2 separate regions of the Homo sapiens genome follow, and region 2 is linked to region 1. The links come from fine-mapping of genetic effects on gene expression. A gene starts in region 1. The other region holds a variant in brackets. All regions are shown on one strand. Distances are from middle to middle.

Region 1 (5,000 bases):
TGCAAAGACATTACAGATGGCTTTTGACATTTTCAGATAAACTGAAACCACTCCCTCCAGCCCCTAGGGATAATGAAGTAGCTTCTCAATCACTGAAGTTACTTAGATGACAGGATTTGTGAATAATCTGTAAACTCGGGAAACCTCTGAACTGTCTCCTTAGGACAAATAACATACAATTTAGAAAAAAAAAATCCCTACTTAATACTGCTTTTTACTAAATTCATGCCTACATTAAATTTCAGGATCAAACTTAAGTGAATGATTCAAATCATTCATTAACATACATTAAGTGTTTCAGGACCAAACTTAAGTGAATGATTCAAATCTAACTCTGGCTTTTTAAAATGTACATATGTCTTTTTAAAAACCACACATCACAAATATCTAAACTATCAAAGAATTGCATTATTCGAAATTTCAATAGCCTGATACTAGTGACTCGGTCAGTGCCTGATTTTTTTTAAATAGCAGAAAATATTACCATCAAAAGACCCCTTTCCAAATGCTGCTTCTGCTTTTTTGTTTTGTAAATAACAGCTTTGGAAATGTATGCAAAAATATCTCTAAGTTACACAAGTCGAGCTCAAACACTTTGTGGAGCAAGGTTACTTAACAGGAGTCCCAGAAACAGCTAAAATTGTAGGGAAAATTTTGCGTATGTATATATGGCATTGTTTTTTCTGCGCAGAATGTCCATATAACTCAGTTTCTCAAAAGGCCTCAAAACTCAAGATTAAAAGTGCCTGGAAAGACCATCATCTTTAGAGAACATATCACAGGCAACCCAAGACTTATTTTTTATCCCAAGTTAGGGGAGGATTTATCCTAATTTTGTGGCTCCTACACAACTTCTGAGCGACGCAAGCATGAAATGGCTGTCCGATACAAACAGACCCCTTCAGATACGGAATGCAGCAAACCCCTAATTTTCCTTGAAGGGGCCACGGAAAGCCAAACGGATTCGTAACCCGGTTGCTCAATGGTCCATTGGCTACTGCAGGACGCGCCCTCCTCTTACGCCGCAGGGGCTGCGGGGCGGCGACCAGGTTCCTCCGAGGGGCTGAAGTTCCCTTGGGGGTGGCTGAGAGCGGCCGCATCTCTGGCAGCATCCTCCCTCCCGAAAACGCGCCCTAAAAGTAGCGGCTGCGGGCGTGGGCACAGCCAACCCCAGCCTGCGCCTACCAGAAGTCGGGAGGGCGCGGAACTGCGGCCCCTCCGAGACGCGCCCGGGCCGCCGCCGCAGCACTGTCGCAGCGACCTTCCCGCCCGGGTCCCCGCGAGCAAACGGGCAAGCCCCGTTATCACGCAGGTCACACACCCCACGAGTAAAAGGAAAAAACCGGGCAGACAATAAAGCCCAACCCGCGGGGGCCCAAGCGAGCTGGAAGTTGGGGGCGCTGGGGCTGCAGCCCAAGGAGGAGCGGCGGGGACGACGGGATGCGGGGCTGATGCGCCTGGGACGCGGCAAGCCATATGTCAGCCCGGGTGCTGACAGCGGGGAGGACACTGGGCACGCGGCGGCGTCGGGGAGGCGGCCGGGGTAAGACAGGCCTGAGGCGGGAGGGGAGCGGCGGCGAGGTCCCGAGGCGCCGCGGTCGGCCGTGACCCCCACCCCAGCCGGGGCGCTGTCCCGTTCCTTACCGGCAGGGAAGCTGCGGGCTCCGCCGGGGCTATCCCGGCCGCTGGCCTCCGGAGCCAGGAAGCGCCCCCACATCGCGGGCGAGAGGGCCGGGTGGGCCAGGGACGCCCGACTCCTCACGTCCGTCCTCCTGCTTCTTCGGCGGCGGAAACTTGCGCGGAGCGTGGGCCTCGGCGACACGGGCAGGAGGAAAGGCGGGATGGCTGGTTAACGGCTGCTCAGCTACGGGCGGGGAGCGCAGGGGCCAGATTCGCCGCACTGCCGGCGCCTGCCATGGCCAAGCCGGCTGGGCTGAGGCCCGCGCCGGGGAAGCGGCGACTCGGCGGTGACGGCTGCTAGATCCCCGGCTGAGCCCAGGCTCAAAGGCTCCAGGCGAAGTTGCAGCTGCGGGTTCTCTCCGCCCCCTCCGCCGGCAGAGCCAGAGCCGGGGCTGGGGCCGCGAGGGGGCGGGGCCTCGGGCAATGACTTCAGGCGTGCGCGGCGCCGCGCGGGGCGGGGACTGCGGGGGGCGGGGACTGCGGGGGGCGGGTGAGCTACCCCGACCCCGCTTCGCCTCCTTGGCGGCGACTGGGCTGTCCCGCCCTCCCGCCGCATCCCTCTGTCTCCATCCTCCCGCCCTGCGAGTTGAGTAGAGGGCAGCGACTTGGCCTATTTTGCGATACTCGCCCCTCCCTTGGGTAATCCCTCACGCCCTCCCTCCGGGCACCTCTGTGAAGACACGTGGAAGACCTGCCCCTGGCGTCACAACCGCTCGAGATGAAAAAGCCAAGCCAGGGCGCGGCTGAGGGGGCTTCCAGCCTCCCTTGGAATTAGGATTGGGATTTAAATCCTCATCTGTATTCCTTCGTTTATAGATTACTTTAGGGGCAGAAAAGGGGTGGTTTTCCTTTACTAATTTAATGGGGGCGTGGGGGCAACACAGGCACCAGAATATAGCACCGGGATGTGCACCGGAAAAGGCCCGGGGGTAATTAGTACCCGAGGGGGAGAGGGGCCGTCATTGTAATCGCACAACGTTTCAGATTAGCAAGCAGAAAGTAAAAATGGCACCAAAGTCTGTAAAGGGAGCCCTTTCCTCCTTGCCCCCTACTCCTTCACGTTCTTCCTCTTCTTGGCCAGTTTCCACCCTTCACCTGAACCCTTAGTGCAGGAGGAGACGTCCTAAGGAAGGGCGAAAAGGGACAGCATCGTTTTATTTTTAAATCTTACTTCTCACTGGCAATATGGTGATGCTTCCAACGTTTAGTTACGAACTAGTTCGTATAAAAAATTCTGGGCCAGCACTGTGGTGGGAGGCGGGCTCTGCAGTAGGCCCATCACTCAGAGGTAAGTCGGAACGCAGGTCGCTTAACTAGAGAGGCTTTGAGTTCCGCTTTTCCTGTTCTGGAATCTTGCTAACAAAGGCCTCATATTTGCATTTTTCCCTTAAAGACATTTTAATTGGGAAATACTACTTAAAATTCTTGGAAGTTAAATTAGATTTAGGTGTGTGTTCTATCACTTACCACATCCGTGTTGTAATTTATCTGATTGGAGTTTTACATTTAGTCTCCCTGTGGTAGACTTCCAATTATTTCTCCAAATCATGTAATGTTAGCCAAGGGTCAGCTGTTTCTGATGATAAAAAGATACAGAAACATGAAAGACGAATGTGATTGGTTCCTTTTTATTATTTTAATGTGCACTAGCTCGTTTTATCTAACACTTGAAGAGGATAGATTTTTTTAAGTCCCAAAAAGAAAATTAGCAGAAGCTATAGCACTATGTATAGATTTTTTTTTCATGCTTTGTAGTTACCACAGTCTCAGGAACAGAATTTTTGAAATTCATTTGTGATGCAGTTCTAAGAAGTGTATAAAATATTACAGAAATATCTTGGCCTTTGCGAGTTTAAAATACACTTATTATTTCAAAACTGCCAATTTCCTAATTCTAAACAGTGTTTAAAGAAAATCGTTTACTCGGGTTTTCTACATCTTTTTATCAATATAAAGGGCATGCTACTACACACAAAAAAAGTACATGCGAAGGTGAAAGTATCTAAAATATTTCAATATCTATTACAGAGTAAAAGCAAACAGTAAAAACATGTTGCTCTTTTGGCACTTGGCACCAAATATGAAATTTTTGTGTCCCTAGTAATTAAACTTGGGAGGATAGAGGGCTAATGCAATTAGAACTAATTGAAATACTAAGTGAGAATATTATGTTGCTAAAGTATCCATTTCTTTTAATCATATGAATTCTGAGTATATACTGAACTAATGCTTCCCCCCAAATCCATGATACATGGATGATATGTACATGGTATGATACAGCCATGGTTTTCAGAATGATTAAAATTTATCATAACACAAGTTGGAGAACCTAAGGACTATCTAACCATTACTAAACCCCATGTGGTAAACTGCCATATTTTTGTTTTGTTGTGACAGTGTGTTAGGACTACAAGGAGAATTTTAAAAGCAAAGACAGTTATCGTTGAACCTCAATAAACCTCAATCTTGGCAGTTGTTCTGTGCAGATATAAGTAATGAAAATAGTGACTCTGTGTATGTGTGTGTGTGTGTGTGTGTGTGTGTATAAGTATCATTGCTCAGATGAAATTAGGATATTTAATGTTTTGGGAGGGGACTTTTTAAGAATATAAACTAGATCACAAAAGAAGAAAATAGTACTAAAAATGCCACATTTAATACCAAACTATATTAAACTATTTGTTTAAAATGTCTCATTTCAAAAAAAGACATTATTTAAAACTGAAAAATAAGTGTTGCATTTATAATTCTTAAATTTGTATATAAATCTTTGAACTGATTAAGTTGAGCTATCTTACATGTGTTTTTCTGATTCAAATTTATCAGATTGTGCAAACATCATCTACAGAACTGAAGAGGGATATGACAATGAATAAAAGTGATATTTTTAAATTAGAAGAGCCAGGTGCAGTCACTCATGCCTGTAATCCAGTGCTTTGAGAGACCAAGGCAGGAGAATCACTTAAGCCCAGGAGTTGGAGGCTGTAGTGAGCTGTAATGATTGTGCCACCGCACTCAAGCCTGGGCAACAGAGCAAAACCCTGCCTCTAAAAAATAAATAAAATGAGAAGGAAACCCCATGCATAATATGAGGAAAGCTCAAGAGAGCTTTATATTTACAAAAATATAAAATATATAAATAGCAAAAGAACCCAACAATATGTAGGAAAAGTAAACCAACCAATAACAATTGAAATAGTTCCTAAAGAACTATTGCTACTACATAGAAAGAGATTTATGAATGAATTCTAAAAGATTCCAAGGACTAGACAATTCTTGTATATCAAGTGTGTATCAAGGACCATGCTATACAACCTCTT
Region 2 (5,526 bases), 140 kb after region 1:
TGGTGGCTTGTAGAACAAGGTTTACTTCTTGTTGATGTGATTTTGGTGTTTTTGTTTTTGGTGTGAAAAATGTGACAGGTTTTTTTTTTTTTTTTTTTTTTTGTTTTTTTTTTTGAGACAGAGTCTGGCTGGGTTGCCCAGGCTGGAGTGCAGTGGCACAATCTCGGCTTACTGCAACCTCTGCCTCCTGGATTCAAGCAATTCTCTGCCCATCCTTTTCTTTCCATTCATTTATTGAAAGTTGGATTGAGTGCCAGCCACTGTCTATTGTCTCTAAAAATGTTAAAATTCCCCTACATCATGTCGATCCTATGTTAGTCTACACAGTATGTTTAGCCCCTCTGAGCTCATAAGAAATGAGCTGGTAAAATGAGAGCACGAGCTCCTGGGTATAGAGAGAAAGGAGACTAAAACGTCTGTGAAAATGAAACATTTAATTAAGCTGACTGATTTTAAACTTTTTCAAACATGAAACATATGGCTCTATAAAGCATGGAACAGGAAGCCAAAAAGTGACAAGCTGGTCAAAGTTTGATTTTCTTTCAAATCTACAAACAAGGCATTTAAATGTTAAAATGATTCAGACCCACGACTGGGATGTTCCCTAATTTATTTTTCTCTTTAAATGGTCAGAATACAGGCCAAGTATGGTGGCTCACTCCTGTAATCCCAGAATTTTGGGAGGCTGAGGCAGGCAGATCACTTGAGGCCAGGAGTTCAAGACCAGCCTGACCAACATATGGAAACCCCATCTCTACTAAAAATACAAAATATTAGCTGGGTGTGGTGGCACAAGCCTGTAGTCCCAGCTACGCGGGAGGCTGAAGCAGGAGAATCACTTGAACCTGGGAGGGTGCACTGAGCCAAGATGGCACCACTGCCCTCCAGCCTGGGTGACAGAGTCAGAATGTCTCAAAAAAATAAAATAAAAGGCCAGAATACAGACCTCTTCAGGGCCTCAGGCCATAAGCACTTTCAGAATCCTAAACACAATAAAGCCTCCAGAGCCAGCACTTCACCACCTTGCATGTAGAAGGTACTAAACACACGAGTTGAAATTTATTTAAAAAAAAATGCTGGACATTGTTTTTCCCTGGAATACATGATCACACTTTTTAAGACTCTCTGAATTGCCTATAATTACCGGAAGGCCTCATGTTTCACACTAATAATTCCAGCATTAGTGGGAAGCTCAGAAGACATAAGGAAAGACAGAATTCATTATTAATGAAAGTACTGCCGCCCTCGGAGGAAACATGTGTGTCTAATGCCCAACTGACTTCATCTTTTCGTCAATAAGTCCATGCTCTCTCATCATTGATGGCATCTATTGGTCGGCTCACTGGAGAGGACCACAGCTAATTAACAAACACACTTTGGCCTTAATGAAGCTGCTGTTTCCGGTCTATGATACTACTTCAAGGGTACTACATCAATATAAATTCAGACTTTTCCTGCTTTCTTGATTTTACTCTTATTATAGAACTAAATTCCGATTATTTCTTTTAAAAGATGATTCAATTAAGCTCCCCATATCTAATGAAATGCACACATTCTCACATATTTTATATTTTAACATGAGATGAATTCACTTAAAAGAGTAATTTGTTTTTTGCCTCCTCCTCCTGCTTCTTCTTAACTGGGGGTCTGTGAATGAATTCGTTTTCTAGGCCTGCCATAATAAAGTACTACAGCCTGGGAAGCTTCACCTCCAGAAATTCATTTTCTCACGGGCTGGGACGCTAGAAGTCTGAGATCAAGGTGTTGGCAGGGATCACTCCTTTTGAGGGCTGCGAGGGAAAGAGCTGCTCTAGGCCCCTCGCCTTGGCTTACAATTGCTGTCTTCTTCCTGTGTCTTCGCATTGTGTATTAGTCTGTTCTCACATGCCTAATAAAGACATACCCAAGACTGGGTGATTATAAAGGAAAGAGGTTTAATTGACTCACAGTTTCACATTGCTGGGGAGGCCTCACAATCACGGCAGAGGGCAAGGAGGAGCAAGTTACATCTTACTTGGCAGCAGGGAACAGAGAACTTGTGCAGGGGAGCTCCTCTTTATAAAACCATCACATCTCATAAGACTTATTCACCATCAAGAGAACAGCACAGGAAAGACCGCCCCCATGATTCAATTACCTCCCACTGGGTCCATCCCACATCACATGGGAATTGTGGGAGCTACAGTTCAAGGTGAGATTTGGGTGGGGACACAGCCAAACCATACCACATAGTCTTTCCTCTGTAGGTGTCTGTGCCAAATCTCCTATTCTCATAAAGACACCAGTCATATTAGATCAGGGCCCACCCTAATGACCTCACTTTAATTCCTCTGTAAAGACCCTATCTCCAAATGCAGTCACATTCTGAGGTACTGGGGGTTAGGACTTCAA[T/C]GTATTAATTTAGGGAAGTGGCGGGGAAGGAGGGAGTTGTTAGACCATTCTTGCATTGCTATAAAGGAATACATGAGGCTGGGTAATTTATAAAGAAAAGAGAGTTAATTGGCTCACAGTTCTGCGGGCTGTTTAGGAAGCATGGCACAGGCATCTGCTTGGCTTCTGGGGAAGCCTCAGGGAGCTTTCATTCATGGCAGAGGTGAAGCAGCATGCCACATGGGGAGAGCAAGGGGAGGGAGGAGCCACACGCTTTTCAACAATCAGATCTCATGATAACTCACCATCGTGGGGACAGCACCAAGCCACAAGGAATCTGCCCCCATGACCCAAACACCTTCCACCAGGCCCCACCTCCAACACTGGGGATTACAATCCAACATGAGATCTGGGTGGGACAAACATCCCAACTATAGCAGGGGGACAAAATTCATTGCATAATGATGAAGAGGAGGTGAGATTTCCAAGGAGAGACAATGGAATGCATCGTTAGGGGCACCTTCTCTGGAGTCAGATCATATGTGTCAGACCCTAACCCGCTTCTCACCTATGTAATCTTGGGCAAGTTTTCTTTTCTGCCCTTCGGTTCCCCTTTCTTTAAAATGGGTTCATAATGATACCTTCTGCAGGGAGCTTTTGTGAAGATCAAATAAATGCTTTTTACACGAAAGCCCTCTGTTTATTACAATAATTTCAAGCTTTTCCCTTAAAATGCTTAAAGGGTGCTTATGCATTCCCCTCATAAGGGAAGTGAATAGTGTGTTGACACGCCATAAAAATGTAAAACGTATCTTTATATGTGTGGTGAGGTGAATTGAGATGTCTATTTTAAAATTGTATTTTATAATCACAATTTTCTTTTTTTCTTTTTTGGTGAGACAGAGATTTACTCTTGTTGCCCAGGCTGGAGTGCAATGGCGTGATCTCGGCTCACCGCATCCTCTGCCTCCCAGTTTCAAGCGATTCTCCTGCCTCAGCCTCCCAAGTAGCTGGGATTACAGGCATGTGTCACCAAGCCCGGCTAATTTTGTATTTTTAGTAGAGACAGGGTTTCACCATGTTGCCCAGGCTGATCTTGAACTCCTGACCTCAGGTAATCCGCCCGCCTCGGCCTCCCAAAGTGTTGGGATTACAGGTGTGAGCCATTGCGCCCGGCCCATAATTTTCTTTTATACTCAAAACTTATAATACCCCTTGTGTTAGGGCATGAAATGGATTGTGGGCCATACGTGGCAGATTTCAGTCGAGACTCTACCCTGCCAGCCTTCTCAGCCAACCCCTACCTCTTCTCCCCCATCTGAACCAGAGGCAGCTTTCAATTGTGGGCCTAGTTCTTTCTGAGCAAACCTGGTCCAAGATCAGGTTCTCCAAATTCAGATGCCTGCCTTTATTTTTACAATGAAAACCTAATTCTGGACCAGCGTTATTCTGTACTGGTATATACTAGTAGCTGAGTATTTCTGGAGAAAATCTGATAATCATGTAGGCAGTTTCCATAAAGATATCACAGCATTTAGCCTCTCCTGAGCCCTCTGCACCACTGAATCTTTCTTCATATCCCTGGTCCACACCACATCCCAGACTCATAGGCAGCTCTTCCCAATCTCGACCTCTGCACACAAGCCCTGTACTCAGAGCCTACTACTCATGACAACTCCCTTATCCTTCACCAGGAACATGGTGGTTCTAGCAGCACAAAACTGCTTAATCCCACACACGCTGTAATGGTTAATACTGAGCGTCAACCTGATTGGATTCAAGGATACAAAGTTTTTATCCTGGGCGTGTCTGTGAGGGTGTTGCCAAAGGAGATTAACATTTGAGTCAGTGGGCTAGGAAAGGCAGACCCATCCTTAATCTGGGTGAGCACAATCTAATCAGCTGCTAGCATGGCTAGAATAAAAAGCAGGCAGAAAAATGTGAAGAGAGAGACTGGTCTAGCTTCCCAGCGTACATCTTTCTCCCGTGCTGGATGCCCCCTGCCCTAGAACACTGGACTCCGTGTTCTTCAGTGTTGGGACTCAGACTGGCTCTCCTTGCTCCTCAGCCTGCAGATGGCCTATTGTGGGACCTTGTGATCATGTGAGTTAATACTTAATAAACTCCCCTTTATTTTTATATATATATATATATATATATATTCCATTAGTTCTGTCCCTCTAAAGAACCCTGACCAATACACACACCATGCTGAATCTCTCCTTCAGGCCTTTGCTCTTGCACAGGGAAATACCTCCTCTTTCTCTGGGCTCCTCTGCTTTTGTCTAATATACTTTTACACTTCTTTCAAGACTCAACTCAAGCATCACGTCCCTCTCTCCAAAGCCTTGCTCATTCAGTGTCTGCTATAGTTTGAATGTTTATGTCTCTCCAAAATTCATGTTGAAACCTAGTACCCAATGTGATAGTATTCAGAGGTGAGACCTTTTGGGAAGTGATTAAGTTACGAAAGCTCTGCCCTCACAAATGGGATTAATGTCCTTATAAAGGAGGCTTCAGAGAGCTGCCTGGCACTTTCTCCCCTTCCACTCTCTGCCACATGAGGACACAGCATTTGTTCCTTTCTCCATATGAAGAGGCAGGAAGAAGGTGCCATTTTGGAAGCAGCAAGCAAGCCCTCTCTAGACACTGAATCTGCTGGAGCCTTGATCTTGGACTTCCCAGGCTCCAGAACTATGAGAAATACATTTCAATTATTTATAAATTACCCAGTCTGTGAATGCTTTGGTATAGCAGCAAGAACAAACTAGAAAACATCTCTGTCTTAGCTAAACAGGTATGTATTCCTCCTTGGTGACCCCATCATACCCTCCACACATCTCTAGCACTTTTTCTAATGGAATTGCTATATCATTGATTCATCTCTCCTAACACACTGAGTTCCCTGGGGGCAGAAGCCTCATGTGTTCATTTCTGAACCTCACTGTCCGGCGTAGTACATGCTAACATAGTAGATGCTTCAAGGGGCTTGTCTTCTCCCCAATTATATAGACTACTGAAGTCATTTGTGTGCCCAGCTCCTGAAGAACAAGGCACCAAAGTCATAATAATTTTTGATTTCATCTCCAACAGGATTCTTGGTGTCAAGGAACAAAACCCATCTGTGTTGATTTGAGTATAAAAGGATTTTGCTAA

Evidence for each region. PIP is the estimated chance that this variant, and not a neighbour inherited with it, causes the effect.
Region 2: its variant is fine-mapped to the expression of CEP85L in monocytes after LPS (Quach 2016, PIP 0.95).

Annotation. Positions count from the first base shown.
Region 1 is chr6:118,649,553-118,654,552 of GRCh38, forward strand. It overlaps CEP85L (centrosomal protein 85L), which reads right to left and starts at 2,039. Exons shown (of 13, transcript NM_001042475.3): 1 at 1,645-2,039. The coding sequence starts at 1,717. RefSeq lists silencers at 1,423-1,732, 1,933-2,392.
Region 2 is chr6:118,789,763-118,795,288 of GRCh38, forward strand. No RefSeq gene overlaps it. Among named protein-coding and RNA genes, the nearest start is that of ASF1A, 100 kb to the right of the region's middle. The variant T/C (reference allele first, on the strand shown) is at 2,392.